Homo sapiens: one gene and its partners. The protein of the gene in region 4 purifies or fractionates together with the protein of the main gene of each other region. This does not show direct contact. Each region holds a gene or a part of one and is shown on either strand. Other genes may lie near its edges. The genes, in order: TLE3, KHDC4, DOHH and STARD7.

Region 1 (5,664 bases), on a different chromosome or scaffold from region 4:
TAATAGTAGCACCCTCCTAGGTCTGATGTGGGCACCTGAAATGATCCCTCTAAAAGGCGTAGCCATAAACCCGACTCACAGAAAGCATTCAGTAAATGCCAGGGATTATTATTTCTTATTTGCATTCCTCACTTTAATATTTTAATCTTAAATTTTTAATATTTTAGTTTTTTTTTTTTAACTCACTTTTTTCTTAAGGAAAGATGAAAGTCTCAGAGACAGAGTAACTGAATGCAAAATGTCTGTGCTTTCTCACCTATAAAATGGGGATGGAAAATGACCTCCCATACTCCTGGGTTATTGGGTGGGTGGGGAGGGACCCTGAGCCTCAGAGGACCTGAGCAGCACCTTTGGGAGCCGCCCTCCTCTTGAGGGCAGAGAATGCTGAGCTCAGTCCATCTGCCCTCCCACCACCTGCAGATCTTCTCGCTGGGCTACTGCCCCACTGGGGAGTGGCTGGCTGTGGGCATGGAGAGCAGCAACGTGGAGGTGCTGCACCACACCAAGCCTGACAAGTACCAGCTGCACCTGCACGAGAGCTGCGTGCTCTCCCTCAAGTTCGCCTACTGCGGTGAGCCTTGGATGGGCCCAGGCCTGATGGAGTGGGGTGGGGAACCCAGGGCAGCCTGGCCCAACAGGACAGAAGAGGGGCCCAAAGCTTATAGAATAAGCTAGGCCCTGGAACCAGGCCTCCTGACCCCTGAGCTGGTGCCCCTTCAACACCCTTAAGTGATCTTGTTCCACATCCTTGTTTCTCGGATGCAGATGTCACCATGAGTTATTGAACTCTCAGGACACTAGGCCAGAGCCAGTTCTTGCAGGCTTGGGGCAAAGGAACAGGACAGTAGCAGTGCAGGCAGTTCCTCTCCATGGTTACAACCACTTGCTTTGGCATCTGAGAGCCTTGGATGGGAATGTCTGCTCCTCCACTGACAAGCTGTGCAGTCTTGAACATCTCACCCTCTCTGAACTCTAGTGGATTTTTCTCTCTGGTCGGGAATAGCATGGTGCTCATGGCTTTCAGGGAGCATAAGGGCTTTAACACTTGTAGAGCCCTGGCCGAGTTCCTGCTTGGAGGAAGGTCGCCCACTGACTGCTGTCTTCAGCCAGGTCTCCAGACTCCCAGGGCTTGGATATTTTCAGTATTTCCTGTTGCCTTCCAGTAGTAGAATTTAGAAAGGCCAGTCAACCTTAGTGGCTTTAACAAGAATCTTTTGAGGCAGCGTTATCACTGCAATGAACTTCAAATCCTACCTTTTCCCATCCTAGCCCCGCCCAGCCCTCCCCCTGGATTTCAGAGAAAGGCCTTCTCCAGGTGTCCGCATGTCCCATTTGCAAAATGCCTCTCGAAATTGGAGAGTTATACTAGTTAGCAGTTCTCACTGCTTTTCTATGGCAGCTGGCCATGTCTAGGGCAGGTCTTGCTTTAGAGGGCAGTGAGCTACAACCTGATCATGCCTTTGCCTCCCACCTGCAGGCAAGTGGTTCGTGAGCACTGGGAAAGATAACCTTCTCAACGCCTGGAGGACGCCTTATGGAGCCAGCATATTCCAGGTACTGCCCACCGTCTGAGTCCTCCTCTGGGTTCTACCCAGAGTTGAAACTTGGTGATGGTGATGGGAGTGAGGATAGCAGCAGGAAGAACAGGAGGAGCCTGGAGCCAGGATCAGACCTGCCCTGGTCCCCTCCCCACCCCTACCTGATAGGGGAGCAAGATTGGGTTCTCCCAAGGACCTGGGGACTTCAGCAGGACACACAATCTGCTACTGATGGCTTCTGACCCCCGAGGGCAAGGGCTTCTAAGCCGGGGCGCTTGTCGGATTTGGAGAGTGAGGAATAGCATAAGTGTTTTTGCTCTGGGCTGGATGCTGAGCACCTGCGGGAGGTGCGCTGGGCACCTGGGCACCCGGCAGCCTTGCCCAGAGCAGTGTTGCCTCCTCAAGTGAGTGAGTGTTTCCACCTGCATTCAGCACCAGCAGGGACATGGACAGGAAAGAGAGGAGGAAAGGAAGAGGCTTTTTATAATCTACCAGGATCTGGGGCCTGCCATACTGCACTGATTGGCACACACACGTGTGCACACACACACGTGCACTCTTTCCCATACACGATCAAACTCACACTCATTTACTCACGCACACTTGGTCTCCCCCACACACTTTCTTCCTCTCTCTCTCTTGCGCTTCCACACACACACTTGCATTCTCTCTCACTCCCTCAGCCAACATGCCGCTTTCTGGACCCAGGCTGAAATGTCTGGTGTGCAGCGTGTCAAACCTCATTGTTAGGGTCTCTAGTTACAGCACATGCTTCAAACATCAGGTGGCAATCCTTTTCCTAACTCATCAGGCTGTGGGCCTGAGCTGCTGACGCCAGCTCCTAGCTTGGAAATGCTTCTTCCTATTTGTAAACTCGGAGGAGAAGCTCTTGCTAAAGCGTCCTGTTCTGATCATTATGACTTACTGTAAAGATCACGTGGGAGACTGTTACTGAGCTTTTCCTTATGGAAAAGCAGGTGGGAGGGGAGCTCTACCTGAAAATGCTTCATGGGTGCTTTAAAGCCTCCCCCACCTCCTCTTCACCGCACTGTGCTCCAGGTCGGAGCATCAGAGAGGGGCAGAGGAGGGCAATTGTTGCCGAGAGAACCGAGATGGTGTTGAGCACTGGAAAATGAATTCCTGTCTTTTTTCTCCCTGCACCCCACGCCTTCCTGCTGCTTCTCCTCGTCTTCCTCCTCCAGTCTAAAGAATCCTCGTCTGTCTTGAGTTGTGACATTTCAGCGGATGACAAATACATTGTAACAGGCTCTGGTGACAAGAAGGCCACAGTTTATGAGGTCATCTACTAAACAAGAACTCCAGCAGGGCTGTCAAACTCTGGGAGAAACCGACTCGGCTCTGACAGGGAGACCCCCAGGCGAGGGGCCCCGAGGATGGCGGAGGATGGGCCGCAGGCAGCCGAGCGTTCAGGGCTGCGCTCCGGCCGGCTGAGAGGGCACGTGCCCCGTCACAGTCTGGACTCCTGGGCCTGGATTGATGTGTCTCACAGACTCGGAAGGGTTCTGCTCCTCCTCCTCCCCCTGAACAATGCTGGCAGTTGCTACAAATAGATTTATTGGAGGCTTATGGCTCCGGTTCCCCCACAGACCCGCTCATGAGTCTCTGTTTGTTCTTCCCTTTTCTTTTGCCCTGTCCCTCACCTTGGGTCGGGGGTGCTGGAGTGGACCACAATGTTGTGCTGGGGGATGGGGGGGTCTCTCTTTGCCGATTGTGCAGTGCACAAGATTTGTGAAAAATGTAAATAACAGACTCCTATTGCGGACTGATCAGTGGGAGAGGAGGCCCCTTCCCACCGGAAACTCTGAGTGTGTATTTCGCCTGCTGTATTTGTAATCCACTCGTGGTGGTGGCTTTTTTTTTTTTTTTTTTTTAAATAAACAGATGCTCTCACCTGGGAAGAGGAGACAGGGAGGGGAACCAATTGAAGAAAGAGGAGAAAAGTCTTAGAGTGTGGAAAAGGCAACCAGGTTGGCCGTAAGGTGCCTGCTGGAATGCGTGTGCCTCCACACGGGTCTGGGCATCCGGACTGATAACCAGCCGGCCAGACTGAGGGATGGAAGGCACTGAGATGGGGGCCCGTCCAGGCGGACACCCGCAGAAATGGAGCTTTCTGTGGTCTCTTGCACTCTGGCTGCCTCTTGCCCTCTCTGTGTCTCTCTTTCTTGGTCTCTCCCTCTCTCCTCCTCAGCCTGGTCTTTCTCTTTGGTGCACACTTAGTTATTGTTGTGAGCAATGGAAGTTCAAAGGAACTCCCTCTCCAGCTCTTCTGAATCTTGGGACACAGCCTAAAAAGGACAAAAAGTTAGAAGACAGCATAGCAACTCAGCTCAGGGAGCTACCAGAGAAAAATAGCAACTGATGTGGGTGCTTTTTTTTTTTTTTTAATTTGAATAAAAAGAATTAGAAGTGATGTCCTTTTATAAAATGCCTTCTCCCCCTTCCCGCCTACAGTCTCTTCCTCTCCCCTTAGAGGGGGGAAAGTGTATAAACCTACAGGGTTGTGAGTCTGAAAAGAGGATCCCCCTCACCCCCACCCTGGGCAGAGCAGTGGGGGTTGGGGGGTGGGAGAGGGGGACACAGATCCTGGCACACTGTGGATATTTCTTGCAGATTGCAGTCTCTTGTGGCCCAAACAGGTTAGGTAGACTATCGCCTCTGGCAGGTGCCACCTTTTGGTACCAACATGTTCTGAGGTGTTAGGATTTGGGTTGGGTTTTTTTTGTTTGTTTTTTTTTTCCTTTTGGTCTTTTTTTTTTTCTCCTTTTAAAGAAAAGCTAAAGGCCGCTGTGAGTCCTGGTGGCAGGCTCTCCATGGATGTAGCATATCGAAGATAATTTTTATACTGCATTTTTATGGATTATTTTGTAATGTGTGATTCCGTCTGCTGAGGAGGTGGGAGGGGCTCCAGGGAAAGCCACCCACCTTCAGTGAGGTTGCTCCCCAGCTGAGCGCACCGGGCATGGGATGTGGAGGCTGGCGACACACCCTGTGCCTCTCCAAGGCTGGGCGCGTGGGGCGTCCAGAGTCTCTCTGGGTCTCAGATGTCCATCTGCCACCTCTTGTTAAGGCTCTAGCCAGAAGGGAGGGTGAGGGTAGAAGAAAGTTATTCCCGAAGAAAAAAAGAATGAAAAGTCATTGTACTGAACTGTTTTTATATTTTTAAAAGTTACTATTTAAAGGTTGGTTTGATTGTTGCGTCTTAATTGCCTCTCCCCCCAGTTTGCCAGTCCCGCCCCCCGCCCCCCGGGAAAACAGCCAGGCCACTGTTGCTGTCACATTCTGGAGCCTGGGCCAGGGCCATTTCCCATCGATGTGAGCTCTTCTCATCTCACAGCATTCCCTGCGCTGCTTCCACCCCCTTCTCCCCTTCCAGATACCCAGCATCGCAGCAGGGATTTCACAATCCCATACTGTGTCGCCTCCCATCCAAGCGCCAGGGAGGGTGGGGGGTAGGAGCTAAGACTTCCTCTGGACAGATGGGCAGGGCAGAGTTCACTGAGGTGAAGGAAGACCACAGGTTAACACCAAAGTATTGTACAGCTGTCAATGCAAAACTTTTTTGGAAAAAAATTAAACGTAATGAACTTGAAGCGAAACTGCAAAGTGTCTGTGAACATCTGGACCTTGGAAACCTGCACAATTTTATTTTAAGCTTAACACGTTTAGGTGGGACGAGGAGATCTTCAATCTCTAGGTCACAAAGGTGTGTTTTTGGATGATACAGAAGGAAGCATTTGCAGAAGAGGCAGACCCAGAAATGCAGGTCATTGTCCCCAGGGAGGGAGTCGGGGGGCTGGGCGGGAAGAGGAGAATGCTGGTGCCCATTCCCGGGGCGGTCCCCAGGCTCTTGGATTTCATGCACCCATTAGCAAAAGCTCTCAGGGCACTGGAGATTAACATGGTTTCCAACTCCTTATTTTGTCAAAGTCATTCTCAGCACAAACAATTGCCTGCTGTCATTTCATACAAGAAAGGGAATCTCACATTTAAAAAAAAAAAGAGGAACGACAGTCTCAGCATAAAGCACAGTCTTTATGACTAGAAGGGACAACTGGCCTCTCTCCACACAGAGGGGTCATTTAGCTGGAGAGGGAGGTCCTCTCAG
Region 2 (7,000 bases), on a different chromosome or scaffold from region 4:
CATGTTGCCCACCCTGCTTCAGCCTCCCAAAGTGCTGGGATTACAGGCATGAGCCTGTTTGGTTCCTTCGTTCATTCTTTCTTTCTTTCTTTCTGTCTTTCTGTCTTTTTTTTTTTTTTTTTTGGTGATAGAGTCTTGCTTTGTTGCCCAGGCTGGAGTTCAGTGGCACAATCACTGCTTTCTGCTGCCTCAGCCTGCTGAGTAGCTGAGACTACAGTCTCATGCCACCGTGCCCAGCTAATGTTTTGTATTTTTTTAGAGATGTGGTTTTGCCATGTTACCCAGGCTGGTCTGAAACTCTTGGGCTCAAGCGATCCACCCTCCTCAGCCTCCTAAAGTGCTAGGATTACAGATGTGAGCCACCGGTCCCAGCCTTTTTTTGTAATTTATATATTTATTTTTGAGACAGAGTTTTGCTCTTGTTGCCCAGGCTGGAGTGCGATGGCGTGATCTCGGCTCATTGCAACCTCTGCCTCCCGGCTTCAAGCAATTCTGCCTGAGCCTCCGGAGTAGCTGGGATTACAGGCACGAACCACCACACCTGGCTAATTTTGTATGTTTACTAGAGACGGGGTTTCACCATGTTGACCAGGCTGATCACAAACTCCATGTAGTTTAAATTGAAAGAAACCGGATCAGGTTTTACCATCTTACTGTTTTTTCATTCTTCTTTGTTCTGCTGTAATAGAGTGAGGAATTATTAGTTAGATACAATTTAAGGGTTTTTGAGAGCTTTACAAGGATGGAGTTAGTTGGATTTTATGTTAGGATTATAGGAGTGGCACAAAGACAACTTCCTATTGTATGCATGAGGTATATGTATTGTAGGCATTGCTCCTCTACCTTCTATTGTGTTTTACTCCATGTACAGCCAACTAACTGAGCTATAGAGTATCATAACTTGGCCCTTTAATTTTCTTTTTGAAGGTTGTAGCTTCTAGTCCCTAGAGCTTCTGTAATTAGGTGGTCATAAAAATGCACATAGGGCCAAGGTCACAGAGAAATCTTGATTGTGGCCTTCAAGCAGATTGACTTTATTATTGACTTTATTTAATGTCATTTTAGTGAGATTTTTGTTTGCTTGTTAATTCGTTTATGAAGAATGACCAACTGTGTTTACAGGCAGATGAAGGGAAGGGTAGGGAGGTGTGGGACTTGGGAAAGGATAGTTGTACATTGGATGACTAAAAGGCTTTATCTCAGCTGGGCACAGTGGCTCACGCCTGTAATCCCAGCACTTTGGGAGGCCGAGGTAGGTGGATCACCTGAGGTCAGGAGTTCGAGACCAGCCTGGCCAACACGGTGAAACCCCGTCTCTACTAAAAATCCGAAAATTAGCTGGGCATGGTGCTGCACACCTGTAATCCCAGCTACTCAGGAGGCTGAGGCAGGAGAATTGCTTGAACCCAGGAGGCGGAAGTTGCAGTGAGCTGAGATCACGCCACTGCACTCCATCCTGGGCGACAGACTCCATCTCAAAAAAATGAAAAAATAAATAAGTAAATAAATAAAATAAAAAAATAGACTTTATCTCATCATAAAAACTTTTTAATCTAATTTCTCTTTTTTCTAGCTTCAGGCTCCTGGCAAAGGCCTAACTAGCAATAAAAGCAAGGATGACCTGGTGGTAGCTGAAGTAGAAATTAATGATGTGCCTCTCACATGTAGGAACTTGCTGACTCGAGGACAGACTCAAGACGAGGTGAGGAGGCATTGAGACTCTTTGGGGAGGGCGGTGAGTGGATTCAGATAAAGAAGACCTCTAAATAGACAGGCGTCAGATATTTATTAGTGGGTTTGGGTCATAGTCTCTAAAGTCAGGATTGGGTTTAATTTAACTTCAGAGGAAGATAATGGAATGGATATAAATGAATTCTCTGGGTTGGTTTGAGTAAGAAACCATGGAATCAAAATTTCAGATACAGGAGAGAATTCTTTCCTTCTTTACTTGGTTGAATGAATGAATGGGAAGAAAATCTGTCTGCCATTGAAATCAACCAATTGCCACATTTTTTTAATTGAACATTTCCTTTTTTAGATCAGCCGACTTAGTGGGGCTGCAGTATCAACTCGAGGGAGGTTCATGACAACTGAGGAAAAAGCCAAAGTGGGACCAGGGTGCGTATTCTCTTATCTTGTTTATGGAAGGGTTGGGTGTATGACTCACGTTAGCCTCATGTTTTTTATCCTTAGGTAATACGTGTACACAATATTTGATTCAAGGTTTGAGGGGTATGTGTGTGCACACTATAGCAGAATTCTGGATATCAAACAGATACAAGATGTTGGGACCTGTTTTTGGACTTTTATTTCACATTTAATGTTTTTATTGGAGGAAACAAATTATAGGAAAGTGTAAAAGAAGATACTAACCACTAACATTTAATGTATATACTCTTTTTTCTTCTTTCTGTTCCATATGATCTGCAGAAATAATGTATATACTTTTTTTTTTTTTTTTTGAGATGGAGTCTTGCTCTGTCGCCCAGGCTATAGTGCAGTGGCGTGATCTCGGCTCACTTCAAACTCTGCCTCCTGGGTTCATGCCATTCTCCTACCTCAGCCTCCCGAGTAGCTGGGACTACAGGCACCTGCCACCACGCCTGGCTAATTTTTTGTATTTTTAGTAGAGACAGAGCTTCACCGTGTTAGCCAGGATGGTCTTGATCTCCTGACCTTGTGATCCACCCCCCTCGGCCTCCCAAAGTGCTGGGATTACAGGCGTGAGCCACCACGCCCGGCATTGTATATACTTCTTAACTTTTTTCTGTGGAAATAGTTCCCCTCACAAATGGGCTCTTTTTTTTTTTTTTTTTTTTTGTCTTTATGATGGTTATAGTTTGTGATTATTCAGGTAAAGACTTAATCTGTTTCATTTTATTCCTTCCATCATTCCGTGTTTGAGTTTCTCTTCACTGTCAGTTGATAGGTACTTAGGGAATGCAACATTTTTAACATTAGCTTAAACTACACAAAATAAGGTGGCAAAATTTAATTCCTACCCCAAGCCAAGAATTTATTTATTTATTTATTTATTAGAGAAGGAGTTTTTGCTCTTGTTGCCCAGGCTGGAGTGCAATGGCGCCATCTCGGCTCACTGCAACCTCTGCCTCCTGGGTTCAAGCAATTCTCTGGCCTCACCCTCCCGAGTAGCTGGGATTACAAGCATGCGCCACCACACCCGGCTAAATTTTGTATTTTTAGTAGAGATGGGGTTTCACGATGTTGGACAGGCTGGTCTCAAAAGTCCTGACCTCGGGTGGTTCCCCTGCCTCGGCCTCCCAAAGTGCTGGGATTACAGGCATGAGCCACCGTGCCCAGCCCCAAGAATGTATTTAAACTTTCTATATGTGTTGATTGCTGTTTTGAACTTTGTCTTTAAAAAGTTATTTTTACCTGCTACTTTTTATTAACTATATATGGTTATTGATCACTTTATTATAATTTAAGTCCTCTTCACATTTAGAATCTAAATTATCAGTTGATGTAGACCTTAAGAGGTTTCTCTATATGCATGATCAATCTTTCCCCATTAATTTTGTGTGTGTGTGTGTGTGTGTGTGTGTGTGTGTGTGTGTGTGGTTTTTTTTTTTTTTTTTTTTTTTTTTTTGGAGACAGAGTCTTGTTCTGTTGCCCCGGCTGGTGTGCAATGGCATGATCTTGGGTCATTGCAACCTCCACCTCCTGGGTTCAAGTGATTCTTGTGCCTCAGCCTCCTGAGTAGCTGGGACTACAGGCGTGCCACCATGCCCGGCTAATTTTTGTAATTTCAGTAGAGATGGGGTTTTGCCATGTTGGCCAGGCTGGTCTCAAACTCTTGGCCTCATGTCATCCACCCACCTCAGCCTCCCAAAGTGCTGGGATTACAGACATGAGCCACAGCACCCAGCTTGCCCCATTGATTTGGATAGACGAGACCACATTTGTTTATAACCTATTAGACAACCAGCAAAAAGGAATTCTGTTCTTAAATATTGGGTTATCTCAATAGACTGGAAAATAATGGTAGTGAATCCATAAGAACAGATTTGATCTGAACTCTGTGGGCCAGTTGACTTTTAAAATCAAGAAGTTTATTTGTTCCCCAGCTGTTAAAGCATGTTCTGAGACATTAGCTAGCAAAAACCCTTCTAATGTATATAGTCCCTTTTGGTTATTTGGAAACTTGAAACATTACAAATTAGATCTGGTGACCCATTTGACTCCTTTTTTGGTTTTGACCACATTGAGATCATCCTTTTTTGTTTCTCTTTATAGGGATCGTCCATTATATCTTCATGTTCAGGGCCAGACACGGGAATTAGTGGACAGTAAGTAATGTTTTTGGCTCACGTAGCACTTTTTGTGAAGAGCAAAGTACAGGGCTCTGTATAGCAAGTTGGCAAAGTGTCCCTGATGGCTGTTCTAACCCTTGTTCATGAACTATACACGAATTTGTATGGGAGTTTAGAGGGATGGAGAGCCACATATTTGGGTAACGTATAAAGCAGATTTACGGTGAATAATTGAACACTGGCCTGCCTGGGCACTAGTCAGTTCATTCCATTCAGTTTTACTGTCTGTGTTTTTCTAAGGAGCTGTAAACCGGATCAAAGAAATTATCACCAATGGAGTGGTAAAAGCTGCCACAGGAACAAGTCCAACTTTTAATGGTGCAACAGTAACTGTCTATCACCAGCCAGCACCCATCGCTCAGTTGTCTCCAGCTGTTAGCCAGAAGCCTCCCTTCCAGTCAGGGGTATGTTTTGGGGAGGGATCGTTAATAGCATTATCATTTCTATAAAAATGATATGTGCTGGCCAGGCACAGTGGCTCATTCCTGTAATCCCAGCACTTTGGGAGGCCAAGGTGGGTGGATCATTTGAGGTCAGGAATTTGGACCAGCCTGACCAACGTGGTGAAACCCCGTCACGAACATTACCCGGGCATGGTGGCAGGCACCTGTAACCCCAGCTACTTGGGAGGCTGAGGCAGGAGAATTGCTTGAAGCCGGGAGGTGGAGGTTGCAGGGAGCTGAGACCATGCCACTGCACTCCAGCCTGGGCCACAGAGCAAGACTCCATCTCAAAAAAAAAAAAAAAAAAAAAAGTGCCAAGTAATACATACAAAGAAAAAAAAATCGTGAAATTCCAAATTCCAATCCCGAAAGTTACCTGCCATAGGTATTCTGTTTGTGTGTTATCCAGCTCTCCACGGTATAATGAACACCTGATCACACATTTCTTCATATTGATATATTCTAGAAAGGAGATTGATAGAGCAGAAGGTATACATGTTGTACATTTTGAAGTTAGTGGTTTTAATTTGTATTTGTAAACTTGATGACAACTGGAGGACTAAGAAGGCTGAGTCTGATGAAGTAAGACTTTGCTGATACATTCCTCCTAGAAAAAAGGGTTGGAGAGAGCAGCCTTCACTGAAGAGTATCACAGGGCTGACTGTACTACCCAACACTCTACCCCAGTTTTACAGGAGACTGTCTTTGCTATAATTTCTTATTGACTTATTTCAAAGATTGAGGATTTAATTATATATTCTGTTTAATCTGAAGTATTCTGTTCTTCCTACAGATGCATTATGTTCAAGATAAATTATTTGTGGGTCTAGAACATGCTGTACCCACTTTTAATGTCAAGGAGAAGGTGGAAGGTCCAGGCTGCTCCTATTTGCAGCACATTCAGATTGAAACAGGTGCCAAAGTCTTCCTGCGGGGCAAAGGTTCAGGCTGCATTGAGCCAGCATCTGGCCGAGAAGCTTTTGAACCTATGTATATTTACATCAGGTATGGATGGATAGGGCAGGGGACATGTGAATTCTTGTCAACTTGTTGGTACAGTCAGGAGTGATTCAGAAGGAGCAAGAGAAAACTGGGTGTAATTAATAGTAATGAGGGATTTAGATAAATGCTAGGAGTAATTACTTTATAATTAGTTAAAGAAATTGTAGAATTGGGGCACGGTGGCTCATGCCTGTAATCCCAACACTTCTGGAGGCCAAGGCGTAGGACCACTTGAGCCCAGGAGTTTGAGGCCAGCCTGGGCAACATAGCAAAACCCCATCTCTCCAAAAAAATTTTAAAAATTAGGCGGGCACGGTGGCTCACACCTGTAATCCCAGCACTTTGGGAGGCCGAGGCGGGTGGATCACGAGGTCAGGAGATCGAGACCATCCTGGCTAACAAGGTGAAACCCCGTCTCTACTAAAAATAAAACAAAAAAAATTAGCCGGGTGTGGTGGCAGGCGCCTGTAGTCCCAGCTACTCAGGAGGCTGAGGCAGGAGAATGGCGTGAACCCGGGAGGTGGAGCTTGCAGTGAGCTGAGATTGCGCCACTGCACTCCAGCCTGGGTGACAGAGCGAGACTCCATCTCAAAAAAAAAAAAAAATTAGCCAGGTGTTATGGTGTACACCTTAATCCCAGCTGCTCAGTAGGCTGAGGCAGGAGGATGGCTTGAGCCCAGGAGATTAAGGCTGCAGGTAGCTGTGTTTGCACCACTGCACTCCAGACTGGGTGACTGAGTGAGACCCTGTCTTAAAAAAAAAACCAGGTGCGGTGGCTCACACCTGTAATCCCAGCACTTTGGGAGGCCGAGGCAGGCGGATCACTTGAGGTCAGGAGTTCGAGACTACCCTGGCCAACATGGTGAAACCCTGACTCTCCTAAAAGTATAAAAATTAGCCAGGTGTGGTGGCAGGCACCTATAATCCCAGCTATTCAGCAGGCTGAGGTAGGAGAATTGCTTGAACCCTGGAGGCGGAGGTTGCAGTGAGCTGAGACTGCTCCATTGCACTCCAGCCTGGGCAACAGAGCAAGACTCCATCTCAAAAAAAAAAAAAAAAAGAGAAATTATTGAATTAGGAGACGGAATTATCTCTTTAGTATTCAAGTCCTTTGGTTTTGTACAAGTCTGTACAAAAGTGAATCTTGGCCTGTAATCCCAGCACTTTCAGGGCCGAGGCGGATGAATCAGGTCAGGAGATTGAGACCATCCTGGCTAATAC
Region 3 (7,721 bases), on a different chromosome or scaffold from region 4:
CCCGTCTCTACTAAAAATACGAAAAATTAGCCAAGCATCGTGGCAGGCGCCTGTAATCCCAGCTACTGGGGAGACTGAGGCAGGAGAATTGCTTGAACCCGGGAGGCAAAGGTTGCAGTGAGCCAAGATCGCACCATTGTACTCCAGCCTAGGCAACAGGGCAAGACTCAGTCTCAAAAAAAAAAAAAAAAAAAAAAAGGTTAAACATAGAATTGCCACATGACACAGCAGTAACACTCCTAGGTATCTACCCAAGAGAAACAAACATGTAACATCCACGCAAAAACTCACACACCTATGTGCATAGCAGCTTTATTCATAACATCCACAAAGTGCACACAACCCAAATGTACATCCACAGATGAAGGGAAAATGCTCCATTCATACAATGACACGGTGTTTTGCAATATGAGGCAATGAGGCTCGGACACAGGCTACAGATTGGATGAACCTCGAAAGCATCATGCCCAGTGAAAGAAGCCAGATACAAAAGACCACATAGTGAGTGATTCCATTGATACGAAATGTCCAGATAAGCAAATCCATAGAGACAGGAAGTGGATTAGTGGTTGCCAAGGGCTGGGAGAGGGGGATCAGGAGTGACTGGAATGGACTTTATTTTGGGGGGTTGATGGATATGTTCTAAAATTGATGTGATGGCCGTGAGCTGTGGCTCACACCTGTAATCCCAGCACTTTGGGAGGCTGAGGCGGGCAGATCACTTGAGGTCAGGAGTTCAAGATCAGCCTGGCCAATCTGGTGAAACCCCATCTCTACTAAAAATACAAAAATGAGCCGGGTGTGCTGGCGCGCACCTGTAGTCCCAGCTACTCGGGAGGCTGAAGCAGGGGAATCACTTGAACCCGGGAAGTGTAGGTTGCAGTGAGCCCAGATCATGCCACCACACTCCACCTTGGGTGTCAAAGCAAGACTCCGTCTCGGAAAAAAAAAAAAAAAATTTATGTGATGATGGCTGCCCGACTCTGAATATACTAAACACCACTGAATTATCACTTTACACAGATGAATTGTACAGTATGTAAACTATATCTCAATACAGCTGTTATTTAAAAAGTTCTTGCCCGGCGCAGTGGCTTGCGCCTATAATCCCAGTGCTTTGGGAGGCCAAGGAGGGCGGATTATGAAGTCAAGAGATCGAGACCATCCTGGTCAACATGGCGAAACCTCATCTCTACTAAAAATACAAAAATTAGCTGAGCGTGGTAGCACGCGCCTGTAATCCCAGCTTCTCGGGAGGCTGAGGCAGGAGAATCCCTTGAACCCGGGAGGCGGTGGTTGAAGTGAACCGAGATTGCACCACTGCACTCCAGAAAAAAAAAAAAAAATCCCCTTTGGAGCTGAGTTAAGGAGAAAAGAGAACAGGGAAAAGGAGGAGGCAAGAGGTTACAGTTTCAGATGCAGTGCTCGGGGATGCTCTTATTGCAAAGATGATGTTTTAATAAAGATCTGAAAGAGGAGCTGGGCGCAGTGACTAACGGCTGTAATCCCGGCACTTTGGTAGGCCGAGGTGGGCAGATTACTTGAGGTCAGGCCTTCAAGACCAGCCTGGCCAACATGGTGAAACCTCATCTCTACTAAAAATACAAAAATTAGCCGGGCATGGTAGCAGGCCCCTGTATTCCCAGCTACTCGGGAGGCTGAGGGAGGAGAATCGTTGGAACCCGGGAGGCAGAGGTTGCGGTGAGCTGAGATCGCGCCACTGCACTCCAGCCTGGGCAACACAGCAAGACTCTGTCTCAGAAGAATAAAATAAAAGGAGAGGAGAGGGAGATTCTAACACAGAAACACAGAGACAGACACACAGGGGTCAAGGCCAGGTGATGACAGTGGCAGAGATTGGAGTGACGAAGCCACAAGCTGAGAAACACCAAGGACTGGCGGCCACCCCCAGAAGCTGGAAGAGGCAGGAAGGATCCTCCCCTGGAGCCTCCAGAGAGGCCACAGATCTGCAGATACCTGGATTCCAGACTTCCGCCCCCCAGGGACTTGCTCAATCCCAGAGGACCCACCGAACAGAAGACGCAGACTTGGTTCTTCTGTGCTATCAGTTTCTCGAAGGTCTACAGAGGCCAGATGCCAAGTTCTCTGACTTACACAGGCCTTGCTTTTGGCTGAGGCTTCGATATCTGCGTCCTGCACCCTGGGATTATCTCCTCCTGGGGAGCATCCTTGGGGCCAGTCACACCTGGCACCCTGCCCTCGTAGCCTTCCTGAGTCAGCACAGCTCCTGGTCCACGGGAAGTCCTCCGTAAACAGCCTGAGCCACAAACATGTTGAGATGACGTCCTCGCAAGGCAGCTGAGGGCTGCAGTGATGCCTGTTATCTGCAGTCAGTTTTCCAACACATAGGAAGGCAATACAATAATTTAAAAAAAAAAAGGGGGGGTGGGCCGTGCACGGTGGCTCACGCCTGTAATCCCAGCACTTTGGGAGGCCGAGGCGGGCGGATCACGAGGTCAGGAGATCGAGACCATCCTGGCTAACACGGTGAAACCCCGTCTCTACTAAAAATACAAAAAAATTAGCTGGGCTTGGTGGTGGGCACCTGTCGTCCCAGCTACTTGGGAGGCTGAGGCAGGAGAATGGCGTGAACCCAGGAGGCGGAGCTTGCAGTGAGCTGAGATCGCCCCATTGCACTCCAGCCTGGGTGACAGAGCGAGACTCTGTCTCAAAAAAATAAAAGTGGGGGTGTCAGCTCCATGAGGCCAGACACTGTGTCTGTTTTGTCCTGTGTCCTCTGTGCCCAGGACACTATCCTCTGTGCTCAGGACACTGTCCAGCACACAGTAGTTGCTCAATAAGTATTTGTGAATGTTGTCTTAAAATAGAAGTTGGCCTTCCAAAAGGATTTCTTTGCTATGCACAGCATTTTATGTTTTTTCATTAATTTTTATTTAATTATTTTTTTGAGATGGAGTCTCACTCTGTCACCCAAGCTGGAGTGCAGTGACGCGATCTTGGCTCACTGCAACTTCCGTCTCCTGGGTTCAAGTGATGCTCCTGCCTCAGACTCCTGAGTAGCTGGAATTACAGGCACCCGCCACTAGGCCAAGCTAATTTTAGTATTTTTAGTAGAGATGGGGTTTCAGCATGTTGGCCATGCTGGTCTTGAACTCCTGACCACAAGTGATCCACCTGCCTTGGCCTCCCAAAGTGCTGGAATTACAGGCGTGAGCTACAATGCCCAGCCATGTTTTTTTATTAATTGCTCATTTTTTTTTTTTTTTTGAGATGGGGTCTTGCTCTGTCACCCAGGCTGGAATCCAGTGGTGTGATTACAGCTCACTGGATCCTTGAACTCCTGGACTCAAGCTATCAAGCCACCTGAGTAGCTGGGCCTACAGGCATGAGCCACCAGGCACAGTTGATTTTTTTTTTTTTTTTTTGGAAATGGAGTCTTGCTCTGTTGCCCAGGCTGGAGTGCAGTGACAGGATCTCAACTCACTGTAACCTGTGTCTCCCAGGCTCAAGCGATTCTCCTGCCTCAGCCACCCAAGTAGCTGGGATTACAGGCTGAGCCACTGCGCCCAGCCAAATTAAAAAAAATTTTTTTTCTGTTGAGACGGGGGCTTACCACATTGCCCAGGCTGGTCTTGGAATCTTGGGCTCAATCGATCATCCTCTCACCCCACAGCCTCCCAAAGTGCCAGGATTACAGGTATGAGCCACCACTCCTGGCAGTCACCCACATTTTAAAAATAAGAGATTGCAAGCAGGGCACAGTAGCTCACGCCTGTAATCCCAGCACTTTGGGAGGCCAAGGCAGGTGGATCACCTGAGGTCAGGAGTTTGAGACCAGCCTGGCCAACATAGTGAAACCCTGTCTCTACTAAAAATACAAAAAGTTAGCTGGTGTGGTGTTGCATGCCTGTAATCCCAGCTACTCGGGAAGCTGAAGCCTTTTTGTATTTTTAGTAGAGATGGGGGTTTCACCATGTTGGCCAGGCTGGTCTCGAACTCCTGACCTCAAGTGATAACACCCACCTCGGCCTCCCAAAGTGTTGGGATTACCGGTGTGAGCCACCGTACCCGGCCTCTTTCAGGTCTTTCTTCAGATGTCACCACCTCAGATTCTGGCCACCCTTCCTGAAACTGCACACCCTATACATACACCGCCCTTGGCTACCGAATTTTTTCTCGTTAGCCTTTTTCACCATCTAATAGGTATTGCATTTACTTATCGTGTTATTTTCTGTCTCTATAACAACACTGGGAGGCGTACGAGGGTAAGGGCTGAAGGCTCTCTTGTCCTCAAGGCCATGTACTATTTATTACATACATGAATGAATGAACGACTGCATTTCTTCCTTTTTTTATTCCTCACCTACTTAAGGTTCGAGCTCCCTGAGCCCATTGGCCAACACCTCTGGAGTCTGACCACGCCTAGAAACACTGCGCATGCTCCGTTGCTAGCCAGCCCAGGCAGGGCGCTGAATCGGCACAAACCAGTCTCACTTCTTGTACCGCAGTGGGGAGGTTGGAGAGAATTTTTTCCCATGAAAGGGCATACGTTGCCCGTCCCCTTCCCCGAAGAACGCACTAGGAATACTGTTCCTGCGTTTGCATGAGCTGTGGCACCAGCACCGACTCAGCCTTCCGGGCCTCCCTCATGCACGGAGCCTCTCACTAGGTCTCACCCGCGGCTGCGTTGGTGCCGTCCGGCACGGTCACGTGGGCGAGAAAATGGCGGCCCCCAGACCGCACTGCGGGCGTCGCGGCAGGTGAAGCGGTGGTGGCAGAGGCGCCTGCGGTTACTGGCCGGGCCGACGGGTCCTGAGTCTCCAGAGCTCGGTGAGGCGTCCCGGAGGCGGCGATCACGGTGTGGGGCCCGGGTCTGGCGGGCGGTGGCACCGGGAGCGCCTCGTTAGGGAATCCGGTCTCAGGGATTCGTTGACTGTGGATGGGGCGGGTTAAGGGGTCTCGAGTCCCGGCGATCTCTTTCCTCTGGGATTTTTTACATGAAAGAGTGCCCACCTCACGTCCTGAAGCTCCTATGTCGTACGGTTGGGTCTCAATGGTCCCCAGTGCCCTGCCAGCTCGCACAGGCCTGCCCTCTGGTTTCTGATGACCCCTCTTTAAAGGTGTCACTCTCCTTTGATGGTCACCTGTGCTTAGGTGGCTACACTGCCCTCGTCAAGCCCAGGCAGCCTTGCTGACGCCACTGTTCACCAGAGAGGGCTGCCAGCATGCCATAGCCAGCCTGTCTTGAGATGAAGCATCCGCCAGGTTCTCAGCCGATCTGGAAAGAGAGGGGTCCCTTCTCCCCTTGGCTGTGTTCTTTTATCCTAAGTCATTCAACAAAGCGTTGGTGGTTTAGAGCCCGACTCTGGAGCCAGACTTCCTGGATTCCTAACTCTTCACGCTGCTCCCAAGCAAGTTCCCAAGCACAGTCCCAAACTGTGCCTCAGTTTCCTCACCTGTAAAATGGGGACAATCTTAGTAACTACCTCACAGGGTAGTGATGTAGATCGAATGAATTAATGAATGTAAAGAGCATGGAGTGCCTGGCGCGTAGCAAATGCTACATAAGTGTCAGCTGCTATTGTCACGGTTGTCGTTTTTATTTTATTTATTTATTTTGAGACAGGGTCTTGCTTTGTAGCTCAGTCTGGAATGCAATGGCACGATCTCGGCTCACTGCAACCTCCGCCTCTCGAGTTCAGGCGATTCTCCTACCTCAGCCTCCCGAGTAGCTGGGATTACAGGCGCCCACCACCACGCCCAGCTAATTTTTGTATTTTTAGTAGAGATGGGGTTTCACCATGTTGGTCAGCTGGTCTCGAACTCCTGAACTCAGATGGTCTGTCCACCTCGGCCTCCCAAAGCGCTGGGATTACAGGCGTGAGCCACCGCGCCCAGCCGGTTATTGTTTTTATTGAGGCCCTACTGCGTGCAGGTCATTGCACTAAGTGCTGGGAATACAACAGTGACCAAGATAGACTCAGTCCCAGCCTTCAGAGTTCTATTCTAATGAGGGATAAGACCAATCACAAGCAACTAAACCAATACTTTCCAATATGATATCTAGGAGTCTTAGGCGCCGTGGAGAAAAATAAAGCTGAATAAGTGAAAAGAGATGGAAGAGTAACATTGTCCATTGTGATCAGGGAAGGCTTCCATGAGGAAGTGATGTTGGAGACCCAGGAAAGCAAGAGGATGAGCACGGGTGTTCCTGGACCAAACTGAGGGTCGGGCTGCTATTTCTCATGGTCCAATAACGAGATGCAGATTAACTGGGGAGGAAGAGAGTTTTTATTTCTGTAACCGGTTACAGGGAGAAGGCCTGGAAAATATCGCCAGACCAACTCAAAATGACAAAGTTTTCCAGAGCTTATATACCCTCTAAGCTCTCCATCTACATGTAACTGAGCATCCATCTAAAGACTTAAAGTGACTAACTTCTTTTAATCTATAACTAAGATCTGAATCCTGAAGACTTTCCTTTGGAACCTCAGTAAATTTACTTAATCTAAATGGGTCCAGGTGCTGGGGTGATCACCCTTATCTCATCTCCAGTGGGTCCAGGTGCTGGGGTGATCATCCTTATCTTGTCTCCTGCTAAATCATGGAGGTTTGGGGAGTTCTTCAGACACCCAGTAAAACTTGTTTCATCCTAAACGGGTCACATTAAGAATTCCTTCGTTATTGGCTGGGTGTGGTGGCTCAAGCCTGTAATTCCAGCAGTTTGGGAGGCTGAGGCGGGTGGATCACCTGAGGTTGGGAGTTCGAGACCAGCCTGACCAACATGGAGAAACCCTGTCTCTACTAAAAATACAAAATTAGCCGGGCATGGTGGTGCATGCCTATAATCCCAGATACTCGGGAGGCTGAGGCAGGAGAATCACTTGAACCCTGGAAGCATAGGTTGTGGTGAGCCGAGATAATGCCACTACACTCCAGCCTGGGCAAAAGAGCGAAACTCTGTCTCAAAAAAAAAAAAATTCCTTCATTATCTTGTCATGCCTTAAGGCCCAGGAAAGGCCTGGGCAAAACTCTTCATGGGCTTTTGTTACATTCCAGCCTTTGTATGAGGGCACTGGCTCTTTTAGCTTTTAATGTTTAACTTAACCACTCAGTCAGTGCTGAAACAGTTATGGAGGCCTGTGTTAGTGAGGCCTGGCCTGCTACGTGGGGACATCTAGGGAAGAATGTTCCTCATGGAGATCACAGCAAATGCAAAGGCCCTAGGGCTGCACTGGGCCTGGCGTGTTGGAGGAACAGCGAGGAGGCCTGTGTGGCTGGAGTGGAGCTAGAGAGGGAAGAGGTGATGGGAGATGGTCATGAAGGGCCTTTGGGACTGTCAAGTAGTTGAGTGAGGAGGCATAGGAGGATTTTAAGCAAGGGAGTGATATGGTCCAGTTTACATATTGAAAGTACTTCTGAATCTGTTATCTAAGCTGTGTAACAAAAATCCCCATAATGGCTGGGGGTAGTGGCTGATGCCTGTAATCCTAATGCTTTGGGAGGCTGAGGCAGGATGATCACTTGAGCTTGGGAGTTGGAGACCAGCCTGGGCAACATAGAAGTGAGACCCCATCTCTACAAATAATAAAAAAAAAATTAGCTGGGCATGCTGGTGTGTGCCTGTAGACACAGCCACTAGGAAGTCTGAGGCAGGAGGATCACTTGAGACTGGGAGTTCGAGGCTACAGTGAGCCGTGATCATGCTGCCGTACTCCAGCCTGGCGACAGAACAAGAT
Region 4 (7,036 bases):
ACCTAATGTAAGCTAAAATTCTAAAACTCTTAGAAGAAAATATAGGCATAAGTTCTTATGACCTTGGATTAGGCAGTGGTTTCTTGGCTATAACACCAAAAACAAGCAATCAAAGAAAAAATAAACATCAAAATTAAAAACTTTTATGCATGAAAGGATACTATCAAGACTAGTATAAGCACATGAAAAGGTTAGGGAAATACCAGTCAAGACGCAATGAGATACCATTTCACACCCACTAAGTTGGCTGGAATAACAAAGATGGACAATAACAAGTGGGGCAATTGGAACCAAGGATGTGGAGCAGTTAGAATCCTCAAACATTGCTGATGTGAATATAAAATAGTGTAATTGTTTGGAAAACATTTTGGCAGTTGCTTAAAAAGTTAAGCATAGTTACCATGATCCATCAAATCTGCTCCTAGGAATCTACCCAAGAGAATTGAAAACATGTCTATATGAAGATTTGTACACAAATGTCCATAGCAGTATTCTTTTTTTTTTTTTTGAGACAGTTTTGTCTTTTCGCCCAGGCTGGAGTGAAGTGGTGCAATCTTGGCTCACTGCAACCTCCACCTCCTGGGTTCAAGCAATTCTCCTGTCTCAGCCTCCCAAGTAGTTGGGATTCCAGGCTCCTGCCATCACACCTGGCTAATTTTTGTATTTTTAGTAGAAATGGGGTTTTGCCATGTTGGCCAGGCTGGGTCTCGAACTCAACCTCAGAGTGATCCACCCACCTTGGCCTCCCGAAGTGCTAGGATTATAGGCATGAGTCACTACGTCCGGCCAGCAGTATTATAATAGCAGTAATATAATATAGTGCTATTATAATAGCACTATAATAAAATAGTGGAAACAAATTTTATTTGATGAATGGATAAACAAAATGCGATCTATCCATACAATGGAATATTATTCAGCTATAAAAAGGAATAAAGTACAGCATGGTTGAACTTGAAAGTATGCTAAGTGAAAGAAGCTCAACACAAAAGCTACATATCATATGATTCCATTTACTTGAAATGTCCAGAATTGGCAACTCCATAGAGACAGAAAGTAGATTAGTGGCTGCCTAGGACTGGGAGGAGGCAGGAATGGGAAGTGACTAATGATAGATAGAGGTTTCTTTTGGGGGTGATAAAAATGTTCTGGAATTAGGGGTGATGGTTGCACAACCTTGTGAATATACTAACAAGTACAGAATTGTACACTGTAAAAGAATGAATCTTATGGTATGTGAATTTATCAATTTAAAAACAAAGGGGAAAAATACATACATACTTATAATAAGACAACCCAATAAAAAACGGACAAAAGATATCAATTGACATTTTAAAACCATAAACCTTCATAGTTAACATTTGAGGGCTACTTACGTGCCAGATAACAAACACTTTATTTTATTTTATTTTTTATTTATTTTAGAGATGGAGTCTCACTCTGTTGCCCAGGCTGGAGTGCAATGGTGCGATCTTGGCTCACTGCACCCTCAGCCTCCTGGGTTCAAGTGATTCTTCTGCCTCAGCCTCCCGAGTAGCTGGGATTACAGGCGTCCACCACCATGCCCAGCTAATTTTTGTATTTTTAGTAGAGATGGAGTTTCACCATGTTTCCCAGGCCGGTCTCGAACTCCTGACCTCAGGTGATCCGCCCACCTCGGCCTCCCAAAGTCTGGGATTACAGGCGTGAGCCGTTGTGCTTGGCTTTATTTTATTTTATTTTATTTTATTTTATTTTATTTTATTTTATTTTATTTTATTTTGAGACGGAGTTTCGCTCTTGTTGCCCAGGCTAGAGTGCAATGGCACGATCTTGGCTCCCTGCAACCTCCGCCTCCCGTGTTCAAGCGATTCTCTTGCCTCAGTCTCCCGAGTAGCTGGGATTACAGGTATGTGCCACCGTGCCCAGCTAATTTTGTATTTTTAGTAGAGACAGGGTTTCTCCACGTTGGTTAGGCTGGTCTCAAACTCCTGACCTCAGGTGATCGCCTGCCTCAGCCTCCCAAAGTATTGGGATTACAGGCGTGAGCCACTGCGCCTAGCCTATTTTATTTTTTAAGAGACAGTGTAGCTGGGCACGGTGGTTTACGCCTGTAATCCCAGAACTTTGGGAGGCCGAGGCGGGCAGATCATGAGGTCAGGAGATTGAGACCGTCCTGGGTAACACGGTGAAACCCTGTCTCTGCTAAAAATACAAAAAATCAGCCGGGCATGATAGCGCGTGCCTGTAGTCCCAGCTACTGGGGAGGCTGAGGCAGGAGAAATACTTGAACCCAGGAGGCGGAAGTTGCAGTGAGCCCAGATCATGGCACTCTATTCTAGCCTGGGTGACAGAGTGAGACTCTGTTTCAAAAAAACAAACAAAAAAAAGAGACAGAGTCTTACTGTATTGCCCAGACTGGAGTACAGTGGCAGAATTGTAGCTCACTACAGCCTCCAACTCCTGGGCTCAAGTGATGTTCCCATCTCAGCCTATAGCTTGGAGTACAGGCATGTGCCACTATGCCTGGCTAATTTTTTAAATTTTTTCTTAGAGGTAGGGTCTCACTGTGTTTCCCAGGTTAGTCTTGAACCTGGCCTCAAGGAGTCCTCCTGCCTTGGCCTCCCAAAGTGCTGGGACTACAGGAGTGAGCCTCTGTGCCTGGCCATAGATATTAAGCACTTGACACTTACTTTTTTTTCGTTGTTTTTTGTTTTTTGTTTTTTTTTTTTTTTTGAGACAAGAGTCTCACTCTGTCGCCCAGGCTAGAGTGCAGTGGCGTGATCTCGGCTTACTGCAACCTCTGCCTCCCAGGTTCAAGTCATTCTCCTGCCTCAGCCTCCTGAGTAGCTGGGATTACAGTTGCGCGCCACCATGCCCGGTTAATTTTTGTGTTTGTAGTAGAGACAGGGTTTCACCATGTTGATCAGGCTGGTTTTGAGCTCCTGACCTCGTGATCCACCCTCTTCTGCCTCCCAGTGTTGAGATTACAGTCGTGAGCCACCACGCCCTGCAGCACTTGACACTTTGTAATCTTTATAGCCAACCTCGAGATAGGTACTATTATTATTTCCATTTTATAGATTTAGAAATAGGAACTGGTTAAATAATAATCTAGTTAGTGAGTGTTGGACTAAGATTCAAACTCAGGAACTCAGTTTTTATTGACTATACTGTGTCCTGTTTATATACTACATACTGTGGTTTACTGTATAACCTTCTTGCACAGACCTTTGTGTGGACACTTCATTTCACAGGGCTGACTAACCACCTCACCATGGCTCTTTTTCCCCTTTACAGATCTATTAATGAGATGAAGCGGTTGGAAGAAATGTCAAATATGTTTCAGAGCTCTGGAGTCCAGCACCACCCTCCAGAACCAAAAGCCCAAACAGAAGGGAATGAAGATTCAGAGGGCAAAGAGCAACGTTGGGAAATGGTGATGGATAAGAAACACTTTAAGCTGTGGCGGCGCCCAATTACAGGCACCCACCTTTACCAGTACCGAGGTGAGCCCAGTGTGGCTATCTTTTGGGTTCCATAGTTGCACAGGTGCATGGGATTTCTGTTCTTCATACTTCTCTAAACTGTTCTGGTTGTTTCTCAGAAAATTTGCCGTAGTTTTTTGTTTATTGTTTTTCTTCTCCCAGATGACAAATGTCTCAGTGTTGTCTTTGCTTACATCCTCTTTGTCTTTCTTTGTTGCTCTACTAAGACTTCTAGTTTCTGAACCTGCCTTTAAGATCTCTTAGTACTTTAGATCTGAAACGCCGCTAGGTGAAAGAAACAAGGCGAGTGACTGGAGTATGGCCAGCATCCCTTATTCTTTCTTTTCATTCTAGTTTTTGGAACCTACACAGATGTGACACCTCGGCAGTTCTTCAATGTTCAGGTGAGTTAATTTTTCTCTCCAGATTTGGAGCCTCCTAGCATATCAATTGCTACTGTCTACATGAATCATTTATCTGACTCAGGTGACATTGGCTTAAGTACATCCATCTATCTACCTGTCATCCACATTGCATAGCATTTAGGTAAACATTTGACTTAGAATTTCTTTATCTGTCCCATGGGGATGAGATCAGTTTTACCCTCCCACAGGACTGTTGGGAATATCAGATAGAGGAATGGATATGAATACTTTAATGTATTTTATGAGGCTTTATTGTTTTTTTCCCCAAACAACTTAAGAGTAAGTTACATACATCATAGTCCTTTACTCCTAAATTCTTCCAGTGTGTATTTCCTAAAACTAGCCATATGCCGTATTTCTTAACTAATCATGATACCATTATTGAAATTAGTAAATTTAACACTGATGGAACACTTTCATGTAGTCCTCTGTTTGTATTTATCAGTTTTATCAGTTGACTCAATGTCCTTTATAGCATTTTCCACTTCAGTACAGATAGGATTATATTTAGTTGTCACATCTGTTTAACCTCAAATCAAGAACATTTCCATAGTGGAGGGTTTTTTTTTTTCTTTCCTCTCCCTGAGACAGGGTCCTGCTGTGTTACCCAGGCTGGAGTACAGTGGTGTGATCATGTCTTGCTGCAGCCTTTGTTTCCTGGACTCAAGTGATCCTCCCACCTCAGCTTCCAGGCCTACAGGCATGCGCCACCACACTTGGCTAATTAAAATTTTTTTTTCTTAGAGACAGGGTCTCCCTATGTCTCCTAGGCTGGTCTTGAACTCCCTGGGCTCTAGTGATCCTCCTGCCTTTGCCTCCCAAAGTGCCGGGATTACAGGTGTGAGTCACTGTGTTGGCCCAATGTTTATTTCATAAAGATGAAGAGTATCTGTTCAAAGACTGCTTTCCTCCTTGTAGGGGAAGATGGTTTAAAAAATGAAACAGGGAGGTGGGATCGCCCAGAGTTCTAGAACAAAATTTTTTTCTTTCTGGATTTTTCATTTGTTTTGCTGACTTCCGATAACTACTTCGTTGGTTATAACACTCACTCTAACGTGCAAGTGCACTTTCCCTGAGGTACTGGATCTTGTTAATTTGTAGTGAATTTTTGTTGGTTTTATGTATATGGTATATCTGTCTTAAGTTGAAAATCTTCAGTTACTAGTGATGCCAGAAATTTAAAAAAATATGCTGCTTGCATTTTTGTGTGTGAAGTGTCTACTTAATACTTTTGGACTTTTTGTTGTTTAAAACTTTTTAGAATTGTCTTACCCTTACACATTCATATCACTATATATTATTTTCCCCAGATGTGTCTATTAAAATATTTTGTTACACTTTTCCTTGGTTTGTCTAATGAAGATTCACATTCAGTGTAATGACATTAGCCTGTATAAGGTGATTTTGAAAGAAACATCTGTAGTAAACACAGCCATGTCTCTCACACTCTGGCACTGTCTGTTAGGTCAGATTACTCTCTCCTTGTAATAAGATTCTTGGATCAGAGACCAAAGCATCTGGAAAGCTTTCTGCATTTTTGTTTTGGGTCTTCTTGGGTATTCATGGTCTTTTCTCTTTCTGCAGCTGGACACAGAGTATAGAAAAAAATGGGATGCCCTGGTAATCAAGCTGGAGGTGATTGAGAGGGATGTGGTTAGTGGTTCCGAGGTTCTTCACTGGGTAACCCATTTTCCTGTGAGTATTTTTACTTCTGATTTTATTTCTGTCCAGGTTTGTGTGATGCAGAACACTAATCCTGCTCCTCCATTTCTTTAGTATCCAATGTACTCACGGGATTATGTTTATGTTCGGCGGTATAGTGTGGATCAGGAAAACAACATGATGGTGTTGGTGTCGCGGTATGTATGGCTGCCTGTGGCTGTTGCCGAGTTCCTTTAGCTGTGGCCTTCATTCCTACGTACCTGAGTTTGTATATTCTTAGTGTCCTATGAGTCTCCCACAGGCTTCCCTGCAGCCAGTGCCCCTTCCATCCAGCTAGAAGATGAGGGACTCTGACTGTCTAGAAAGAATGGAGAGATACAAGCTTTTAGTTAAACTGTTTTTTTGGGTTCTTTAATGTTGGTAATCAAAAGAAGTGCTGTTGTTTTTGACCCACAGCCTAGTGAGCCGTAAATTACCAAAGGAACTCACTTCATTTTTAATTAATTCATTTGTTTGTTGTAGACGCAGGGTTTCACAGTGTGGTCCAGGCTGGTCTTGGACTCCTGGCCTCAAGTGATCTTCCTTCCTTGGCTTCCCAGTGTTGGGATTACAGGCATGAGCCACCACGTCTGGCCTTCGCTTCATTTTTAGAACTTAGTTTGTATTTATTCATCTTAGTGACTCCTTTGTTTTGTGTATTTAAAAATATCAGAGCCAGCTTTTTAGGCCTTCCCCTTAACTTAGCTCTCCTGTTGTTTTATATATAGACATTACTAAGAGTTTGCTTCTCCTTTCCTCCTTACCAGTGCTGTGGAGCATCCGAGTGTGCCAGAGTCTCCAGAATTCGTCAGGGTCAGATCATATGAATCCCAAATGGTTATCCGTCCCCACAAGTCATTTGATGAGGTGAGTTTTACCTCATCCAAGAGATAACATGTCATGGCTGTGGAATTTTCTCAAGGGATGTCTTACCTGAACTAGGGAGGAGGGGGTGTGGCGCAGGAACAGTTCTCGCTCGGGGGAGTCTGATGCTACTGGTCTGGGAACCATTTTTTGGGAACTCCTGACGTAGGTGATGTACCTGGAAGTTCCCCAAGGACAAAGTAGTGGCAATCCATTGGTTCCCTCTTATCTGAGAGATAGTTAAAAGAATCATAGCCACTGACGCATTAGCCTGTATCAGTAGCATTCTTCAGGAACTAGAGCGAGTACCTCCTGTCAACATTTTACTACAGTGGGCAGAGCACTGGATGGAAACTTTTCTGGATTTCTGCTTCCTTGCCAGAGTAATGGGAAGATTGGACTCATGCTGTCTGCCTTCTTTAAAATTCTGTGACCTTTCTTTGAAAAGAATATTTATTTCAGCCTAATGAGGTGTTTTGTGTTTATTTTTTATCTTTTTAAGCTAAATCTCCACTGAGAGTATAGATATTGATGCTAGTGGCTGCTGGTTTTAGTTCCACTTCACCTTATAATGGCTTT

Evidence for each region.
Region 1: the proteins of STARD7 (region 4) and TLE3 purify together in Homo sapiens (affinity purification with mass spectrometry; 2 studies listed by BioGRID and IntAct, with this or other methods). This does not show direct contact.
Region 2: the proteins of STARD7 (region 4) and KHDC4 purify together in Homo sapiens (affinity purification with mass spectrometry; 3 studies listed by BioGRID and IntAct, with this or other methods). This does not show direct contact.
Region 3: the proteins of STARD7 (region 4) and DOHH purify together in Homo sapiens (affinity purification with mass spectrometry; 2 studies listed by BioGRID and IntAct, with this or other methods). This does not show direct contact.

Annotation. Positions count from the first base shown.
Region 1 is NC_000015.10:70,047,281-70,052,944, reverse strand, and holds the end of TLE3 (transducin-like enhancer protein 3), read left to right. Parts: intron 1-420; coding exon 421-571; intron 572-1,477; coding exon 1,478-1,554; intron 1,555-2,597; coding exon of another isoform or gene 2,598-2,660; exon of another isoform or gene 2,661-2,734; intron 2,735-2,740; coding exon 2,741-2,848; 3' UTR 2,849-5,155; downstream 5,156-5,664. UniProt on the Homo sapiens protein: Transcriptional corepressor that binds to a number of transcription factors. Inhibits the transcriptional activation mediated by CTNNB1 and TCF family members in Wnt signaling.
Region 2 is NC_000001.11:155,924,414-155,931,413, reverse strand, and holds part of KHDC4 (KH homology domain-containing protein 4), read left to right. Parts: intron 1-1,573; coding exon 1,574-1,702; intron 1,703-2,038; coding exon 2,039-2,118; intron 2,119-4,257; coding exon 4,258-4,310; intron 4,311-4,574; coding exon 4,575-4,738; intron 4,739-5,327; exon of another isoform or gene 5,328-5,456; intron 5,457-5,570; coding exon 5,571-5,782; intron 5,783-7,000.
Region 3 is NC_000019.10:3,497,652-3,505,372, reverse strand, and holds the start of DOHH (deoxyhypusine hydroxylase), read left to right. Parts: upstream 1-4,698; 5' UTR 4,699-4,812; exon of another isoform or gene 4,813-5,438; intron 5,439-6,366; exon of another isoform or gene 6,367-6,634; intron 6,635-7,721. UniProt on the Homo sapiens protein: Catalyzes the hydroxylation of the N(6)-(4-aminobutyl)-L-lysine intermediate produced by deoxyhypusine synthase/DHPS on a critical lysine of the eukaryotic translation initiation factor 5A/eIF-5A.
Region 4 is NC_000002.12:96,191,793-96,198,828, reverse strand, and holds part of STARD7 (stAR-related lipid transfer protein 7, mitochondrial isoform 1 precursor), read left to right. Parts: intron 1-3,279; coding exon 3,280-3,488; intron 3,489-3,821; coding exon 3,822-3,871; intron 3,872-5,476; coding exon 5,477-5,587; intron 5,588-5,668; coding exon 5,669-5,751; intron 5,752-6,360; coding exon 6,361-6,460; intron 6,461-7,036. UniProt on the Homo sapiens protein: May play a protective role in mucosal tissues by preventing exaggerated allergic responses.